Linked DNA regions of Homo sapiens. The protein of the gene in region 5 purifies or fractionates together with the protein of the main gene of each other region. This does not show direct contact. Each region holds a gene or a part of one and is shown on either strand. Other genes may lie near its edges. The genes, in order: CLOCK, PPP1R12A, ALMS1, MCM3AP, POC1A and FKBP15.

Region 1 (3,500 bases), on a different chromosome or scaffold from region 5:
CCCAGCACTTTGGGAGGCTGAGGTGGGCAAATCACTTAGGTCAGGAGTTTGAGACCAGCCTGGCCAACATGGTGAAACCCGATTTCTACTAAAAATACAAAAAATAGCAGGGCACGGTGGCGGGCACCTGTAATCCCAGCTATTCGGCAGGCTGAGGCAGCAGGATCACTTGAACCCAGGAGGTGGAGGTTAAATAAATACATAAATAAATAGTCATTACTAGATAAACTTTTCCTAAACAAGTTAGTTGTTTCTATGTATGTATATATTTACCTATTTCTTTGTTTGACACAGGGTCTCACTCTGTCACTCAGCCTGAAGTACAGTGGTGTGATCTCAGTTCACTGCAGCCTCAACATCCTAGGCTCAAGCGATCCTCCTGCCTCAGCTTCCCAAGTAGCTGGGACTATAGGGATGCACCACCACGCCCGGCTAATTTTTGTATTTTTATTTGTAGAGGTGGGGGGTCTATGTTGTCTAGGCTGGTCTTCAACTCCTGGGCTCAAGCAACCTGCCCACCACAGCCTCCCAAAGTGCTGGGATTCTAGGCATAAGCCAAAATGCAGGCCCTTCTAAACAAGTTAATATATTTTAATTTTCCAGTACTAAAGAATGTGGTAATAAATAACCTTTAGATGCAAGCTTTTGGGTGGGTACTTCTCACTCTACACATTTTCCATTCACACATGCCTATAAACGCTTATTCAAAATTCAGACCTCTCTCCTGAATTACAGTTCCATATTTCCAAATATCTGAATGTCCTCATACATCTCAAATTCAATATGTCCTAAAATAAACTAACTGCTTTACTCCTCACACCCAATCACACAATTTTCCGTATTATTCTATACATGTGTAGTGGCCAGTGTCTAGAAATCTGATAGTTAAAAAAACATACTCTTTCATTTTTACCTTTCATCATCTAAGTGGCCATTACTAAATCTTTTCCATTTCATCTAAGTATTTTAAAAATCAATTCTATCTCATCCATCTTGAGTGCATTGGTTTAGACCCCTGCCATCACTGATTTGCTACAGTGTTCACCAGTCTCCCTGTCCTTCAACTCATCTTCTCTTCTAGGGCCACAATTACCTTACCAATACTCAAATATTATATGACTTCCCTGCTAAAAAACCTTCAGTGGTTCCTTGTGCTAAACTCTCTTCAGCATGGAGAAATAAACAAGAAAGAAACAAATTTTATTTCTGGTTTCTGATTACTTTTCTAGCCTTACCTCCCACTATCTCTTCCCCCTCCACACACTAACCCTAGACTCTAGTCATACTAAACAATGTATTCCATCCTGCCTCTGTGTCCCTGAATGACCTGCAGCACTCTGTAATAGTTGAGAGCTTGGGCTTTGAGAAAAAAACAATTATTAATTAATAGAATCAAGTCCCAGTTTCATCACTAATAGCTGAGACTTTGGGCAAGTCACTTAACTTCCCTAAGCCTGTTTCCTTATAATGTAAAATGAGGGATCGTAATGGCATCTAACTTATAGGGTTGTCATAAGAATTAATGAGATAATGCATATAAAATACACAGCATGTAGTAAGCACTCAAATGTTAACAACTATTATTTCATAAGATCAAAACAAACCAAGCAAGACTGGCTTAAGATCTTCTATTAATTCAGTACTTTGTCCTATACTATGATGTCCCCCCAAATTTATTTGAGACAGAGTCAGACTCTGTCTCAAAATAAAATGCAAACACAGTTCACTGCAGCCTCGACCTCCTGGGCTCAAATGATCCTCCTGCCTCAGCCTCCTGAGTAACTGAGACCACAGGTGTGTAACACCATGCCTGGCTAATTTTTTGTATTTTTTGTAGAGATGGGGTCTTGTCACGTTGCCCAGGCTGGTCTCAAACTACTGGGCTCAGGCAATCCTCTCGCCTTGCTCTCCCAAAGTGCTGGGATTACAGGCATGAGTCACCTCGCCTGGCCCCGCCGAAATTTTAAATCTTAGCCTGGCTGCCTCTTTCCAGTCAGTTTCTAGTGGTTAACTCTTTCACTTTCCCACTTCCCTACTTGTCATCTGTTTGTTGGGTCCAGGAAATAAAAATAAAATACCTAATTTTACATTTGAAAAGGTAAGTTATATGTGGCAAAGAGCCACTTGTACATTTCAAATAAAAATTTAAAAGTTACCTTCTAAAAATAAAGATTCCAAAAACCTAGATTTTTGGACTTTCCCTTTTAATAGAGATAATGAACAACACACAAAAGGATCCTAAAATCTTCCACAAAAGTAGGGCAATATTGATATATAATAATCACTGGTTAACTGCAAAGGATATATACTAAAAAATTAGTTATACAATTTAATGAGTGTCTTGATAACTCATCGTTTCAAAAATATTATCATGCATATTTAATGACTCATAGCCATTCCACCTCAATGTCTGCAGGAAGTTTCAGGCAGCTCTCAGCATATGAACTGAAATCCCCTTTGGGAAATAAAATTAAAAACATACCTTGATGAACTGAGGTGTAGCTAACCTGACAGTAGCTACAAAACAAACTCTATCTTCATAAGATGGCCTATGTGTGCGTTGTATAGTTCCTTCAAAACCATTGTGTGCTGAAGAGGATACTAAAACAATAGGGAAATATGTATCATCAGTTATGCCAGCAAAACCTAATTGTCACTGATATTCAAACATCTATGTCTTTAAGAGCACAGAAAAATAACAAGTTAAAACACATTGTGAGAGAAGCATTTTAACTCACCACTGTTTAAAGATTTGAAATTTCCTATAAATTTTACATATTCATAGGTAGATGGCTCCTTTGGGTCTATTGTTCCTCGCAGCATGTGACAACAGAATTCTAACTGATTTTTTGCTGAAATAAAAGAGATTTTAAAAATCACATATTTCTGATATAAAACAATGATTGATATACCACATAAAGTAAGATCATAAAAGTTGTGTAAGTTTACAACCATTATTTTCCCCAACAGAAGTCGTCAATGACATTTAGTTCATAAAAGTAGAGCACCTTCAGGAGAGGATCTCACTTTGTCTTTAATAGAAAAAATAGATTTTCTGGTGCAAACAACTTAATGTTTCCCTATTTTTAGCTACTCATCCTTTTCATTCTTTACTCACTTTCAAAGGAAAGTTTTGCTTCACATTCTAAAGCTAATCCTTCCATCTCTACCATTTATAGTCTTTCCTATTTTCTCTAGGACCCGGGCCACATCACTGTTCCTTATTCCTTTAGCATCTACACCTTTGGGTCCTTACTTTCTTCTTTTTTTTGAGACAGGGTCTTGATTTGTCACCCAGGCTGGAGTGCAGTGGCATGATCACTGCTCACTGTGGCATTGAACTCCTGGGCTCAAGTGAGCCCCCTGCCTCAGCCTCCCAAGTACGCAAGACTACAGGTGTGAGCCACCATGCCTGGCTAATTTTTAATTTTTTATAGAAATGGGGTCTCACTATGTTGCCCAGGCTGGTTGCAAGCTTCTAGGCTCAAGCAATCCTCCTG
Region 2 (3,500 bases), on a different chromosome or scaffold from region 5:
AAATTTGTGTCTAAAAGAATGTGCAGTGTAAAATATTTCTCTGCATAGTTTTCTTTTTAGAAAAGCTGTAACACTTTATGCTCATGCCTTTCAAAAGTTTTTATTGAAATCATCCTAAATCCATTTTTAAAAACCTACCTAAACAAACAAATAAAACCCTCCCAACCCCAAACTGGCCCCTCACTTCCTACAAATAAGTGGGCAACCCTAGCCATATATGGGGTGTGCTGGTAGGGCACCAGTGCCCACACTGCTGCTGTTCTAATGCTTTTTCTGTAGTTGCTGCCTCTGTGCTTCCTGGCAACACTTTTGTGGTCTGACTTTGAGGTGTCATAACCAAGACCATCTTTCATGTGCCTCAGCTACAGTATGATTGCAAGCTGTGACTGAGCATTTTCTATAGCCAGGTAGAAACACTGGATGGAATAGAGGAAGTGTTTTTCATCATCCATTTGTTATTACCACATTTAAAAATTACAGTTCACATAAGAAAAGTGTTTTAAAAATCTTATTAGATGATTTTTAAAAGAAAACTATTTAAAAACCTTTTAATAGGGGGAGGCATAAAACGTTGTTTTGTTACTACCATAACATGTTACTTCTTGACACTATATGAAGTTGCTATTTTCATTGCCTCTGCCTGCAAAAAATTGCCATCTTTTACTCCACCCTTCTTTTGAAAGTTTGTGGGGCTCCACAATAAGGTTGAGAAGATGATGAGGTATTGGCATTTTGGTATACCTCTTTGAAAGGTTGAAGAACTCCAACAATTATAAGTTTATTCTCAGTTGGAGTCAGATATGTAGTAGCCATGACTTAATCAGTGTTTTATTGAGGAGCAGTGCTTTTCCAAACAATAGTTTAATTTTCACAACATGCTTTTTCACTTGCTCAAAGTTAACAAGAAAATAAATGGCAGAGCTGGAATTCTTATGCAGGTCTGTTTGATGCCGAAACTCAAACTTTACCCTATGCCAGGTATCTTCTTTGAAGTCTGAAGAAGAAAATATTCTTAAATCTTTTCATCATTATGGTGGTGTTTAGTAATTGGAGGTTTCTCTGTAAATTAGCTGAAAATCAAGTGAAACACACATATAATTTTTTTCTTCATCCACATTTGTTTTAGCTAGCCCATACTTTTAAGACCTTTCTATGGTAATTGAAGTGCAGTAGTACTGTATCTAAATTAATCTCAGAATTCGAAATTGTCCTAAATTTTAGGAAGTGCCAAGATTATTTTTGACTTACCATTATGTGCAGAATATATCAGCAGCAACAAGAAACACTCCTTTTTTCAGGACATAGAATTTAATTTTTAACTACCTTTATTTTTCTTTACCCTAATAGCAATTTATATCGTTTCAGTTGTTGGGTGTGTGTGTGGGTGTGGTGTGTGTATGTGTGTTTTGAGACAGGGTGACAGACTCTGTCACCATGGCTGGAGTGCAGTGGCATGAACATAGTTCACTGTAGCCTTCCTGGGCTCAAGTGATCCTCCCACCTCAGCCTCCCGATCAGCTGGGAATACAGGCATGTGCCACCACTTCCAGCTAATTTTTTTTTTTCTTTGACAGAGTCTCCCCGTGTTGCCCAAGCTAGTCTCAAACTTCTGGGCCCAAGTGATCCTCCCACCTCAGCCTCCCAAAGTGCTGGGATTACAGGCGTGAGCCACTGCACTTAGCCTGTTTTAGTTTTTTTTAATCATTTACAGTAAATTTTTTATACATACGTACATGTACATATTTGATTCTTTTTAGAGACAAATTGTAGGAAACTTCATACCATGGATACTGGGGGTGGGGGGGAAGAAGTCCCTTATATACCCTTAAGGTAGGGACTTTGATTCTTTTTTTCTTTAAATCTCCTTTTGTATCGGCATTTTGTTTTAGTAGGTACACAATAAATATTTAATGATTAAAAAAAATTGGACACAATGTAAACTAATATTTTGAAGAGCAGAATTCATAGAATATTAAATAATTGGGTAAGTGTAACACACTGACAAACTTTTAAAATGTCCTAATAAAAAAGCTTATATCAACCACTTACTTTTATAATACTTACAATGTAAAGGTAGCCATTATTACAATCAAAACATTTATTAGGTGGCTGGGTATGGTGGCTCACGCCTGTAGTCCTAGCACTTTGGGAGGCCTAGGCAGGCGGATCACCTGAGCTCAGGAATTTGAGATCAACCTGGCCAACATGGCAAAACCCCATCTCTACTAAAAATACAAAATAAAAATTAGCCAGGCATGGTGGCGCATGCCTGTAATCCCAGCTACTCAGGAGGCTGAGGCACGAGAATCGCCTGAACCCAAGAGGCAGAGGTTGGAGTGAACTGAGATCATGCCTCTTCACTCCAGCCTGGGCGACAGAGCGAGATTCTGTCTTAAAGAAAAAAATTATTGGGATGTTAGATTTATTTTTGAAATGAGATCTATTACTGATTATCAATAGACGCTTCAGTTTATGTAACTTAGTTTAAAAATTCTTTAAACAAATCCTTGAGTGTTCATTTAGAAAAGTAATCTCTAGGCTGGATGCAGTGGCTCACACCTGTAATCCCAGCACTTTGAGAAGCCAAGGCAAGAGACTTGATCCCAGAAGTTCAAGACCAGCCTGGGCAATATAGGGAGACGGTGTCTCTACCAATAAAGAGAAAAGAAAAGAAAGAAAAAGAAAAGAAATCTCTAGCATGGTAATATTAGAAATAATGCATATTTTCTGTTATTTTACTGATACTTTTTTTTTCCAAATAACATTTTTACTATGGCTCCCTCTATGTCAGTATTTTCTGACCTTATTAGTGTTTTGGTTGTTTATCTTTGCATTGTTATGCTGGCTAACCATAAAAAGACACGCTTGAGTTCTGTGTTACTGCCCTAAGTGTGCTTGCTGCTCAACTCAAATGCTCTTTCATGGGAGGAGACATTCCACATTGTCATGTGTTGTATAGGCATTTCTGAAATGACATTCAGTAGAAACCATGGAAAGAAGTGAAAGCATTCCTCAGCTGTCACTTTTTTAGTAGTCTATTTAAATGTTATGTATATTAAGTGAGATATTCTGCAGAGAGAGCTTCACTTAATAAAAAGCTTTACTTTAACTTGATGATTTAACTCACATTTGAGCTGAAATTACTATTTTCTTAGTTTAACATGACCTCTAACAATAAAATCATAAGATTGTACAAAGCTCATGTCATTTTCTTGAATACTGCATAGTGCAGAGGAGAATACATTTTGTGAGATGTCACTTGGCACCCTCTTAAAGATTAATAACCATGTGGGAAAGTATATTTTCATGGACTGTTACACACACACACACACACACGTACACGTATGCACTCAACCTTTACTTGTAATAAACATCCCAAATTATATATATTTTATTAGCCTTCAAAATTGTTTTAGATGGTTATAAACTTATTTGAATATTTATATTCTTGCATGGAACACTTCTAGAGCTTTTCTGTTGGAGTTTCAGCTCCAGAACAT
Region 3 (2,291 bases), on a different chromosome or scaffold from region 5:
AAAAAAAAAAAAAAAATCCTGTTACATTCTGATCCAGTTACTGGGTTAAATGCTTTATCTCATTCATTGACTCATCTTTTTCACAAGTTGTCCTTTATGTTGTAAGTGTTGGTTTCACGTGTAATGATAAATGGTCTGAGGCTTTAATCCCAAAACCGAGTGTGGGTGGAGGAAGATCCATCAGCCAAGGCTAGTGGCCTTTCTCCCCAGCCTACACAGAGAGTCCCTGGGGGAGCTGGACTGGGGCTGAAAGGAGGCTCTGGACCCAAGACACCTCTCCTGCTGCAGTCTCTGGGTGCACCCGGTGGGCATCTAACCAGACACCGTCTCCTCAAAGCCCACAACAGTGCTCCCACTACAGCACATTGTGTTTCTAAAGATACAGGCTACATTTCCTTCTAAGAGCCCATTTCCCTCAACTGATGCATTTAGACACCTCGGTGGAGACAATGCATAGCTCCTTGCATCTCTCCAGATGGGAAAGAATTGTTTACTATGAGTTAATCTAAAGTTTTTATTTTCTAAAAGTATAAAAACACATACAAAAAGGGACTTATTCTTGAGAAATGATCATATCATTGTAACACACAGGCCATTGGACAAGGCCACTATGCAGAAAGTATTGCTCCCAAACCATTAGGAATTTTAATCACCACTTTGTTCCAGACTCTTTAGAAGTTACTATTTCTAAAATACACATGGACAAAGAATAAGCTTTATTCAACCAGACTCACAAAAGTAAGGATTCTGCTTCTCTAGGTTCATAAAATAGAATTCCAAGGCTCTGAGGAAAATAAACTTGTGTCAGTCCCAGGGAACTTTTCTCCCCAGAAGTTGATTGGTCACTCTCTGTAGAAGAAAAGAAAGGCAGGAAAGAAGTTAGATATTACTGCCATCAGAGGCAGATGCCTCTCCTCCCTGCATCCATGTCACCAAGGAGAATCAGTGTGGTCCTATTCAAATCTTGTTCATTTTACTCTGCTTCAGAAACTATGGTCGTCATATAAAAAATACTTCACGAAAGGTTCAGGAAAGAGGATCTGTAATCAATATCTATTATTTCTATAGAGACACAGATAATCCATCAGTTCCCACATACAGTAGCATAAGGAGAGGCCTGGCCCTGCGATGCTGACACACCAGACAGGTGGTGTGGTGCCTGGGGCCTCCACCTGAGGCACCCGCCTGGGTTCTGGGGCCTGCTCCAGAAGCAGCTCCCATCCCACATCAGTCTGGTGACTGACAGGGTGAGAAGGAAACAACTACAGTGAAGTATATGGCCCTTCAGGCATAGGAGCCGGTCTGGTTTCTCAGAGAATTAACTGGTAACACCAACCCTGCCCCGTGAGGTTCTTGGACTTGCAGCAACGCTGACTCTACTGGGACAATGGGCAGGGCATGGTGACAAGTTGGAGGCCTCTGACCATCCAAGTGGACAACTCTTATGCCGCAGTTACACATTTTCCAGTTTAACAGTTCTAAAGGTATCTGACTCACCAATGAGGGGCATGAAATCACCACCTGGGACTCTGGAATGGAAACCTGATAATTCTGGTATTTCTACCATGATATGTCAATGAACTCCTGTGTGTGAAATTTGGTTTCACTGCAAACGAATGCATGGAAAGGGCCTTACACCATTATGGATGGGGAGTTAAACCTGATTTGAAGTCTAATTACAGATGCCTTCTTCCAAATTTCAACACTGGTCCAGTGCATTCTAAGTTCATTCCTCAAATGCGGTTCATTCTGACTTCACACTCAACAGGCAACGTGTTTTCTCCATTTCTCTTTCCGCCAATAAACCTGATCCATCCCACTCTAGACAGAGGACCCACTGACCTTTTTATATAGCTGGGCTCGCAGCCGGTATGACTTATATTCTGATTTTCTCTTCTCTTCTTCTCTCTTTTTCTGTACTTCTGGAAGCTGCTCATAAATCCTTAGAAATGGCACCAGTGAAAGGACAGAAATCGGGGAGGTTACCAGGGTGCAGAGTCATGAGATCTCCTCTCATCATCCCTCCCTATACCTCCCACTCTCCAGGAGCTCATCCCTCTCAGAAAGGCCCTGGGCCCCGTTAGATACTCCAGCACAGAAAACCCTAGCCCGGGGCTCACAATCTGGAAGGGGAGATAAATACAAACACAATAAAATCCTAATAGTGCTTACATGTGGAAAGAAGTGGGATAAAGGGGGGAAAGGAGTGAGATAAATGAAGGAGAGCTGAACTTCTACTTTCTGCTCTACATGCAAAAATGGACTGTTTCAATATAAGATAATGAACAGCG
Region 4 (3,500 bases), on a different chromosome or scaffold from region 5:
AACAGTTAGAAACATACTATCTAGGGCACTGCTTCTGTCTTCAAAGAGCTTTTAAATAGTTACATCACTAAAACTGTTGCTAATAATCCACCTGCCCTTCTCCATCCTGGCTGTCTTATATTAATCAAGCAATAACCAGTCTCCCCTCACAGCATAAAGCAGACTAAACACACATGAATTAGAAGGAAGTGGGCTTCACCTCTTGTTCTCTTCTTTCTCCAGCAGCAGACTGCTCGACAAACACTGCGCCAAGAGCTCCTCAGCAGAAGCTCCTCGCATCAGATCCTCTGTGCTGGGAATCCTCCCCTCTTGAGCACACTCTGTGCTCCTCTTCCAGTTACGGTGCATGTGAAGCAATGGTATGGGAAAATTGTTTGCAGAAGGATGAAAAGGCTTTATTGCCAAACTGTAAGTACATGATTTGAAATGTTTATGGTCAAGAGAAAATATTTCTACAGCATCATGTAAAGCATGTAGATACATTTGCACATGTGCATTAACATGTAAGAACATGTGCCTCAGACACATGTGCCCTCCTGGAACAGCTCATGCTGGCCCCATGCCTGCTTCCAAGCTTCCATCAAGTCAGGGAGTGGAGCAAAGAGGGAAGGCAGCCCCTGCACTGTAGGGACCCTTATGCACAGAGGCATTGAGACTGCCTGTTCCTCTTGGAAGCTTCTGCTCTCAAGAGGCAGCTAGGTTTTTGGAGCTTCTCTGCTTCATGTCTTGCTTCCCACCCTAGGGTTCCAGATTCTGTTCTTCCCTAGTATTGGCAAGGTTTTTTATAGATAGCTCTTGGATACATTTGGAAGTAATGTTTACAAATGGTGAGAGAGAAGGCATCTGACATTTTTTTCTAAACACATGCCAATGTTTGTCTTTTCCCCACTAATTTCAATAATTTGGCCTAACACTTTTGTCACATATTCTGACTCTTTATTCTGATCCATTTATCTACTCTGGCATCCCCACATGGTTTTAAGTACTGGAGCTTTACTGTATGTCTTGGTATCAGGCCAAGCAAACCATGTTAGTCTTATTTAAAACTTTCTCAGCAATTGATGCATATTTGTTTATCCTGATGAATTTTAGAACTTACCAGTACTGACATCTTCACAGCATTGTATCCTGTCAACAACCTAGTCTGAACCTCAATGGTTCAGGTTTCCTTTGCACATACAGGCCCTGAGAACTCATATGTTAATGAGAAAGACATTCCGGGAAACCAGGAGGTGAGGAGACCAAGGATTAGGCTCCACTCCTATTATGAAGATGAACAGTTTTTAGAGTATCATGGAGTTGGAGAAGGTACTTCAAGGATCTCTATGGGGAACAAGAAGGAACAGCAAAGTTCCACCATCCTGTGCCCTTTCTGTTCAGGTTTATTGTTGTGAATGAGAATTTTTTTTTTTTTAACATGTTGTGGATCTATCTATCTGATCACCTTATTGAACTGAGAATGGTTCTATGGACTTGACTTTTCTTGGACTGACAACTGTACTGTCTGGAAATGACAGTTTCTCCTTCCTTTCAGTATTTGTGCCTGTCTATCCCACATCCCTGTACTGGTCAGGATTTCCAGGACAATAGTGAATAATAGTCGGGACAACAGGCTGGTTCTGATTCCACTGTTCCTAACATTCTACCAAGAAGCATGTTTTTTTTCTATTTTGGTAGTTTTATGTTAGGTAGCCTTATCAAGTTAGGACTTTTTTTTTTTTTAACCCAAGCTAAAGAAAGTACCCAAAATAAAGAAATTTTATCAGGAACAGGTATAAATTTTAAGAAACGTATTTCAACGCCTGCTAAAATTACCACTTATTTTTCTATTATGGCAACAAATTACATTAATAGATTTTCACTGTTATTGTTTATCCTGGGAGAAAGCATACTTGTGAACTTTTTTAGGTACTGTGCTTTGGAACCAAATTTGGAAGTGAGATGAAATGTCAGCTGTACTCTCCTGGTTAGGTATGATTTCAGGGTCAGGTATGCCTGATAAATGAAGTGAGATGCTTTAACTTTGTTCTAGAATAGTTTCTACTGCATGGGAATGATCTGTTCCTTGAGGATTTGTCACAGTCTGCCCACAGTGGACTGGATTTGGCATGTAGGATGTTAATTTCTATTTACTTTGCAAGAAAAATACAGTTTAGCAAGCAACAGAAACATACTGAACATGAACCTCACCGTCCCTCTCTCAGCTGTAGCTCCTTCTGCGTCTGCAACCTGGCTTGTTCCCACGACAAAGGAACATCATATTTTTTCAAATCGTTTTTAAAAAAATACACACATATCTGACCATCTTCACTCAGCGCCTCTGAGAAAACAATACAAAAACAGATAAAGAGGCCAGCCTGGCCAACCCTGTCTCAAAAAAAAAAAAAACACACACAAAAAAACAAAAACAGGTACAAATAATATTTAAACAGCGACAGGTGGCATGTGCTTAAATTCACTGATTTAAGTGCAAGACCTTTGATTAAAGTCACACAATTATGTGACTTCCACACTTGGGTTAAATAGGCTCCCAGGGTCCATGCATCACTCAAAGTCCAGACAAGCTTACATCGAGACTGGCAGGGCCAGTAATGACTACTCAAAAGCCACAAAATCCTCTCTAAGAGCCATCCTAGGGGGCCTGTTTCAGGGAGGTGAGTTCAGGCTCTACCAGAAACTTCCTAGCCTGTCTCAATGTTTTTAAGTCACTCACTTGAAGAGGGAAGTCCTAAGGAAAGGAAGGATAGAGACCCAAAAGAAAAGCAGCAACATCAACTAAACATCTTCCTTTGCAGAAACTGGACCAGGAAAGTCTCGTGAGGAGCTGATCCCATTGCATCAAGCTCTAATTACCTGATGTAACAGGAAGCCGGGGGGGCGTCCAGTCTCTCAGCTTGTGGTTGATACACAAGGCGATAAGATCATCCCATGGGATCTCCATGACCGAGGGGCCTGCCCCATGGACTGGGGAGGGACTCTTGCTCTTCCACCTACAGTAGGTTCTGTGGAGCAGGTTCTCCACCTGGGACTGGAGGACAGGCTGTGTCTGGCGTGAGCTGGGGATCTGGGAGGCGTACTGGACAACCATGGAGCACACGGGGAGCCAGGGGGCTGGGGAGAAAGTGCCTCATTAGTTACAGGTTTGGCCAAAATACAGGTGAAAATGTACATGAAAACATTTTCTCAGGAGAAGGCAACTGTGAAGTTGAGAAGTCTGCTTTCTAAACACAGCAGAACCACAGTTGTTGAGGGGGAAGAGCAGCTTGCTCCCAGGGTCTAGGTGAGGGATGCAGACAGTCCCCCTTAACAGTGTTGCTAGCCAAGTTCTACCCAGAAGTTCTGACTGTACAGGCCTGTGGTTGTGCCTAGGAAATCTGTATTTTAACAAGCACCCAGATGAGTCTGGTATAAGCAGTCTTAGCTTATTTTGGGGAACCCCAACCTAACCAGAGCACCGAGGGCTTGTGCTGAGTGGTTTGCTTCCCTTTGGGTTCCTTCAA
Region 5 (3,500 bases):
AGGATACCATGCCATCTCAGCTCCATTTCCGTTAGTGACATCAAGGGTCCTTTGCGTCCTTCATGTGAGCTGGACTGGAGACCACTCTTCCTTGCTTCCCCATCCCCCACCCCCTGGCTTTAACACCTCTTTTCCTCGTGGGCCACATGTGTCCCTCTTGCAGCCTCGCTCTACCCATGTGCTGGCATGGTAGAGGAGGATCTGCAGAGTCCCAGCCTGGCCTCAAGAGCCAAGGAGATGAGGAATTGGGGAACCTCTAAATCCTGCCTTGCCCCCCACCCCAAGACCACATATCCACATGACAGCCACCTGGAGCTTCACTCATTCCCTGGACGTGCCCATGGCCTCTCCAGAGCCACAGGCAGCCAGGACCTCTCTTCCTCCCTCGGGTGAAATGGCCCTGCCAAGCATGCCCCTATTGCTGGCCACCACCTCTTGTCAAGGGATTTTGCTCTTACTGAAACTGCTACACTACGAGCCTGTGTTATGGCTGCCAACCTACGCTCCAGAGGGCAGGGCCCATATCCATCTCAGTGACGAGGGTGGTCAGGGCCACAACTAACATTTATTGAGCAGCTACCTAGGGCCAGGCATGGGCCAAACATTTCCCAGATTCATCTCCCTTAATTCTCACCATGAATGTGGCAGGCAGAGCCCACAACCACCAGCACATTACAGATAAACATACCAGGGCTTGGTGAACTAAAGGGATTTCCCCAAGGTTGCACAGAGGATAAGGAAAGGTCCAGGCTCAAACTCATAGCCTAGGTTCTCAGAAGCCCTGACTCACTACTCAGTTCCCTGGCATGCCCCTGCAGTGCCCATCCAGCAAAGAGTGGGAGGAATAAACAAACACAGTGTTTCTTTCAAAGCTCTTCAGTGGCCCAGGCCAGCTCTAGGTGAGCACACTCCAGTAGTACCCAGCATTGGGGATTTTGGAGTCTAGTGGTCTGGCCAGGGCTTGAATGGCTCCAAGAGCCAGGATCCCCGGGAAGGCTCTGCAATGTCATTAATATGGACTGGAAAACAGGTCCGTTATAATTATGTTTTTAAAAATCCAGCACCTGTTGTCCAACTTCAAACGGTCCAAATGCGGGACCAAGTGCAGATGACGGGATGACGGGTGAACCCACAGTGTGGCCTACCTGAGTGAGGACATCCAGCTGGCCCACAATGTGCTCCAGCGTGCTAGTCAGTGTCTGGGGCACACTCACGGGCTCCTGGGGCTGGCTCTGCACAGACTCCACACTCCTGCCTCTGCCTGGGGGGACAGGGAAGTCCACTTCTGGCTAAAGACAGAAAGAAAAAAGTTCCTCAGTCTATCCAGTGCTTGAAGAAATACTGTGAGAGGAATAGCCCCTCCAAAGGATGAAAGGGAAAACCACCAGCAAATTTGAGAAGGTAAGCTCCAAGTGTCAGTAAGAAACAGCAGCGTGGCGGTGTTCCCACATCTGGGTCCACACACATACCTTTCCAGGCAGAGGCCTTAAGTGGGGAGTGGAATCAGAATGCCTTGTGATCCAGGCAGGAAGGGGCCTGGGGAGGAGGGCAGGTAGGCAGGCCAGTGAGTGGCCTCAGCCTGCTCTTGGAGCCCCTCAGGGAAGCTAGCTGCCTCCCATATCTTCAAGCAGCTGGCACCCACCAGCAGGCATCCAGGTGAGTCCAGAGATGCTGAAGCCTGGCCTGGGCCTGAAGTCCCTCCTCTTCCTGGTCAGCTCAACTCTAATTCCCCACCCTTCAACATGGGGGTGTGCCAGGCTTCACAAATGCCTTTCCCAGGCCCAAGAAGCTGTGGCCCAGAACTTGGTGGAAGTGTGTGTGTGGCGGGGAGAGGGGTGTTCCAACCCCACCCTGGCCCAGATCCCCTGGAAAAACAAAGATTTCTGTGTGCATGTCCCAGGCTGGCACATGGCTGGCAGGAATCAGACTCCACAGGAAAGGCACCCCTGGGCTGCTTCAGATAGGACTCCAGGAGGTGAGGGGCTTAGTGTTTCTGCGTAAGGCCCTTCAGCCCCTAAATTCAGCAAAGTCAGCTCCTTGCCTTATGCACAAAGGCTTCTGTGGACCGAAGAAGTGCTGTGCACATGTTCAGTGGGCGGGATGCTGGAGCCAAGGATGTCCAAGGGCAGGGCTGGTCTTAGAGCCTGCAGTTCCTCTGTGGACTTGTTCCTGTGGGAATGTGGTTCAGCACATGGACCCTACCTGCATGTTTTCCTTTATTAGGTAAGTATTCTATTCTCATAGATCACAAACTTTCAAGGGCATGCTGATTTGAACTTGGAAAAATGCTGGCCCTCATGGTAGCTACAGGAGAACTTGAATGTGAGACATGAGCCAGAGGGATGTTCTTGACAGCATGAGCAGCACCGTGTCCACACACCTATCATCAGCATGTCGGCCACTTCCGTGGCCATTTCTAAGACTTCGGCCATCAGGGCTGGGTCTCTTCCAGTCCTCCAGGAATCAACGTGCTTCAGATCTCAATGCTTACCCAGAAGCCCATCCCAAAAGGAAATTTCAGAAGTCCACCAGCCTTGCCAGGAGAGACTTCAGCCTACCACAGTGGCCCCCAGACTAAGGCAGTTCTGTCAGGAGACACAGCAGAGTGCAGTGGTGAGGAATGGTGACTCAGACAGTCACTGACCAGCTCTGGGCCTCCATTTCCTCATCTATAAAATAGGGATGAAGACTGGGCCAGTCCTTCAAACGGCTGGGCTGTGAGAGGTGCTTATCTGAAGCTACCAGCAGGCCTTTCTTAAGAAATGTTCAGTGCTGTGCCCACTCCTTCCAGAGGACCCCCTAGCAGTGCAGACACACACTCTTCCACTGGAGGAAGGGTGTGAGCAGGGAACTCTTCTGTCCCACAGCCAGCATTGTCATGGAATGGGCCAGAGTCTGGTGCTGCTGGCTGCTTAGGAAGGAGGGAATGGAAAATGTGAGTTTCTGCAGAATGGCCCAGAAATGGACAGTGCTGAGCTCAGCCTCTGGAAGCACAGTGGATGCTGCAGGGAGGCAGGGTGAGTACCACTGACTTTAGCAATAGAAACCCTCCTGGATGAGCCAAAGCTGAGCCAGCTCCAAGGGAGTATTAAAGACAGCGGCCATGGCACTCCAAGCTGGAGAGGTGGCCTTTACAACAGAGGGTTGCGGCAGCCACCATGTTTTCCCACCTATACCACACTTTCATGGGCTGTCTCCATTTGACAATAAAGAGAACTAAGGCTCAGTCAGAAAACGACTGTCTAAAGGTAACCAGCCTCAAACTCTAGTGCTGCCCTGAGCCATTTCCCTGCCTCCTTGCCCACTCCCATCAGAAAACACCACAGCACTTAACACTCCACCAGTCCAGCAATCGCCATGGTTTACTTGCCATCCACTGTGTGCCCTCATTTAATGTCACCTCACTTAATACGTGTAACCTCACTTCATCCTTATGATGGCCCTTCCCAATAGGCATTATTAACCTTATTTTTCAGATATGGACCCTTGGGCTCAAAGAG
Region 6 (3,500 bases), on a different chromosome or scaffold from region 5:
CCTGCCTCTGTGCTTGACAGCTCCTTGTGGGGACCGGTGGAGCTAGTGACATCATCTTTCTTGAGCTGTGGAGGCTGAGGCTCTCCTGGGCTTTCAGGCCCTAAGGCCAGTGGGTCCCCCTCCTCGGGGTCTGAAGTCAGGGACAGTCTTGTGGAGCTTTCTTGTAGTGGGCCATCTGGTGCTACTTCCCTGACACAGACCTTTCCTGATGGGTTGTCGGGCTTAGCTGCCATTGGGCTGGCAGCAAGTGACTCCTCACACTCAGAGTCCATGGATACAGGGCCTAGGGGCTCAGGTGGAATTGAAGTCGGGGGCCCTAGAACTCTGTGGGATGGGATGCAAGACAGTTCGGGTGGAAGGGAACCATCTTTTATCTCTGAGAGTGCCTCAGCTTCTGAGTCCCCTTTCCTTCTGTGTCCATCCTGGGAAGTGGTGAGGGCCTGAGGAGGCAACGGGACAGCTTCCTCGACCACCTGCTCTGAGGGCACCATGGGGGACTCTGGCCTCTCCCTATTCAGGGGTGCTTGAGGCTGCCCAGAACTGGCTGAGGCTGACTGCTCCTGGGAAGGTCTTCGTGGCCGCTCTTCTGCTTTTTCTTCTTCTTCTTCACTGCTGCTCTCTTCCTTCTCTTGCTCCTGTTGGTTTAACAGCTGAAGAGTCACCATCTATTCAAAAGCCAAGGAAGAGATGGTCACTGAAAGGAACACAGTAGCCACTCCTAATTCTTATTAACACTACTGGTCATGTAGTTTAAATGACTTTGCTTCTTTCCTGTTAAAAGAGGCTGACTATATCTGTCAAGTCACTCCAGGCATCCTAATTACTGAGGAACAGTCCTGAATAATTTTCTTTTTTTTTTCTTTGGAGACAGGGTCTTGCTCTGTTATCCAGGCTGGAGTGCAGTTGGGGGCAATCATGGCTCACTGTAGTCTTGAACTCCTGGGCTCAAGTGATTCTCCTGCCTCAGCCTCCCAAGTAGCTGGGACTACAGGCACGTGCCACCATACCCGGCTAATTTTTAAATTTTTAATTTTAGTAGAGACAAAGTCTCATTATGTTGCCCAAGCTGGTCTCAAGCTCCTGGCCTCAAGCAGTCCTCCCACCTTGGCCTCCCAAAATGCTGGGATTACAAGCATAAGCCACTGTGCCAGCTTTGAACAATTTTTTATTCATGATCCCTTAGAAGGTACTTAAGCAACAAAATGCCCAATACGATGAAACAAATGACAGCTGGCTGGCTGTACCTTGATCGTATTCATGATGGTTCCCAGAATGGTCCTGCCATTGTAAGATTCCTCCAGCTCAAACTCTCTCCGTAAGGACTGGAACACCTGGTTCATGATCTTCTTGACCTGTGTGAACATCAAAACACATGCTGTCAAAATCAAGTCACTAAAGGATGCATTAAATTCCAGAGAGGTGTATGGAAGGCCAAAATGAAGCCATCTTAGATCTCTACACTGGGATACTGCTGGTCATAAGCAGAGACACTGAAGGCTGTCACTGTGGAGAGGATGATATTAAATAATGAGCAGCACTTTGACAGAAGGGCTAGTCATGAGAGTTACCTATCAAGGGCAGGCAAGCTGTGGTCTGTGTGCCCAAGACTGCTTAAAGACCATTTCTTGATGTCCCCCTCCCACTGTGAGCACCACTAGGAGCTGCCATAGGCTCTAAGGGTCAGAGGCCAGTGGATGCTGGGCACACTCCCCAAGCCCCATTCTTCTTCTGTGGTTAGAGGCCCTTCCTATACCTGTCAAAACCTCAGAAAGATAGGGTTCTTTTGGGTTTGCCACTTAATATGTAAGTATGTATTTGTTTGTTTTCCCACTAGGCTGTAAGCTCCTTAAACTCAAGAACCAAATCTGGGCCGGGCATGGTGGCTCATGCCTGTAATCCCAGCACTTTGGGAGGCTGAGGCAGGCGGATCACAAGGTCAAGAGACCGAGACCATCCTGGCCAACATGGTGAAACCCTGTCTCTACTAAAAATACAAAAATTAGCTGGGTGTGGTGGCGCGTGCCTGTAGTCCCAGCTACTCAGGCGGCTGCGGCAGGAGAATCGCTTGAACCTGGGAGGCGGAGGTTGCAGTGAGCCAAGATCACATCACTGCACTCTAGCCTGGTGACAAAGTGAGACTCCGTCTCAAACAAACAAACACCAAATCTGGTTCATTTTAAAGTCATCAGACAAGTAAAACATCACTAAAGTTAGAAAAAGAGCTATTAACACAACATACTGGCCATGTTCTTTCTGAATGCTTGATATAAATGGCTTGCTTCTCATTTGAAATACCAGCTCACCTTCTCTGAGGGGTCAGATGCAGCAGCTTCAACCCCAGACATCTGGGACTTGTTCTTCTCTAGTTCCTTGATGTGCTGTTCATTTTGCTTGGTGAGAGCTGTGATTTGGGCCTGGAGGGCTAAACACTGCAAAACAAACAGACTGTGGCTGTGGCCTCAGGAACCAGGTGAAGGTCAGAAAACCCAAGGGGAGGAGAACCACCCAAACATCAAGTCTCTTTTTTTTTTTTTTGCATATAATAAAAAGACAATTTTATTTCAAATTCTTTTTTTTTATTATTATTATACTTTAAGTTCTAGGGCACATGTGCACAATGTGCAGGTTTGATGCATAGGTATACATGTGCCATGTTGGTGTGCTGCACCCATCAACTCATCATTTACATTAGGTATTTCTCCTAATGCTATCCCTCCCCCCGTCCCCCAACCCCCGACAGGCCCCGGTGTGTGATGTTCCCCGCCCTGTGTCCAAGTGTTCTCACTGATCAATTCCCACCTATGAGTGAGAACATGCAGTGTTTGGTTTTCTGTCCTTGTGATAGTTTGCTGGGAGTGATGGTTTCCAGCTTCAACCATGTCCCTGCAAAGGACATGAACTCATCCTTTTTTATGGCTGCATAGTATTCCATGGTGTATATGTGCCACATTTTCTTAATCCAGTCTATCACTGATGGACATTTGGGTTGGTTCCAAGTCTTTGCTATTGTGAATAGTGCCACAATAAACATACATGTGCATGTGTCTTTATAGTAGCATGATTTATAATCCTTTAGGTATATAACCAGTAATGGGATTGCTGGGTCAAATGGTAATTCTAGTTCTAGATCCTTAAGGAATCGCCACACTGTCTTCCACAATGGTTGAACTAATTTACACTCCCACCAACAGTGTAAAAGCGTTCCTATTTCTCCACATCCTCTCCAGAATCTCTAAACATCAAGTCTTAACCTCGCCTAGGTCTGCTGGTGTCCACTCCCTCAGCCCCCACCCACGACCCTCTGCCTCAGAGAGTTCTATCTCCTCATCATTCGACTTCAACGCAAAACTTCACTTTCTCTTTCCCAAGAAGGTTGCTTGCCTTGTTCCCAATCAGGTAAAAAATATAATGAAAAAAGAGCAGGAGGGTAGGTAATAACTAGTCATTTAGACATAAACATTCAGCATTAACAGCAACCCATTTGTCATTCATCTGCAAGA

What was found.
Region 1: the proteins of POC1A (region 5) and CLOCK purify together in Homo sapiens (co-immunoprecipitation; 2 studies listed by BioGRID and IntAct, with this or other methods). This does not show direct contact.
Region 2: the proteins of POC1A (region 5) and PPP1R12A purify together in Homo sapiens (affinity purification with mass spectrometry; one large-scale study listed by BioGRID and IntAct). This does not show direct contact.
Region 3: the proteins of POC1A (region 5) and ALMS1 purify together in Homo sapiens (co-immunoprecipitation; one large-scale study listed by IntAct). This does not show direct contact.
Region 4: the proteins of POC1A (region 5) and MCM3AP purify together in Homo sapiens (co-immunoprecipitation; one large-scale study listed by IntAct). This does not show direct contact.
Region 6: the proteins of POC1A (region 5) and FKBP15 purify together in Homo sapiens (affinity purification with mass spectrometry; one large-scale study listed by BioGRID and IntAct). This does not show direct contact.

The regions. Positions count from the first base shown.
Region 1 is NC_000004.12:55,456,410-55,459,909, forward strand, and holds part of CLOCK (circadian locomoter output cycles protein kaput), read right to left. Parts: intron 2,853-3,500; coding exon 2,739-2,852; intron 2,602-2,738; coding exon 2,483-2,601; intron 1-2,482. UniProt on the Homo sapiens protein: Transcriptional activator which forms a core component of the circadian clock.
Region 2 is NC_000012.12:79,925,098-79,928,597, reverse strand, and holds part of PPP1R12A (protein phosphatase 1 regulatory subunit 12A), read left to right. Parts: intron 1-3,500. UniProt on the Homo sapiens protein: Key regulator of protein phosphatase 1C (PPP1C). Mediates binding to myosin. As part of the PPP1C complex, involved in dephosphorylation of PLK1. Capable of inhibiting HIF1AN-dependent suppression of HIF1A activity.
Region 3 is NC_000002.12:73,608,126-73,610,416, reverse strand, and holds the end of ALMS1 (centrosome-associated protein ALMS1), read right to left. Parts: intron 1,943-2,291; coding exon 1,843-1,942; intron 850-1,842; coding exon 805-849; 3' UTR 501-804; downstream 1-500. UniProt on the Homo sapiens protein: Involved in PCM1-dependent intracellular transport. Required, directly or indirectly, for the localization of NCAPD2 to the proximal ends of centrioles.
Region 4 is NC_000021.9:46,240,612-46,244,111, forward strand, and holds part of MCM3AP (germinal-center associated nuclear protein), read right to left. Parts: intron 3,112-3,500; coding exon 2,854-3,111; intron 2,389-2,853; exon of another isoform or gene 2,321-2,388; coding exon 2,191-2,320; exon of another isoform or gene 407-2,190; coding exon 200-406; intron 1-199.
Region 5 is NC_000003.12:52,095,424-52,098,923, forward strand, and holds part of POC1A (POC1 centriolar protein homolog A), read right to left. Parts: intron 1,290-3,500; coding exon 1,146-1,289; intron 1-1,145.
Region 6 is NC_000009.12:113,169,278-113,172,777, forward strand, and holds part of FKBP15 (FK506-binding protein 15), read right to left. Parts: intron 2,430-3,500; coding exon 2,304-2,429; intron 1,353-2,303; coding exon 1,245-1,352; intron 666-1,244; coding exon 1-665. UniProt on the Homo sapiens protein: May be involved in the cytoskeletal organization of neuronal growth cones. Seems to be inactive as a PPIase. Involved in the transport of early endosomes at the level of transition between microfilament-based and microtubule-based movement.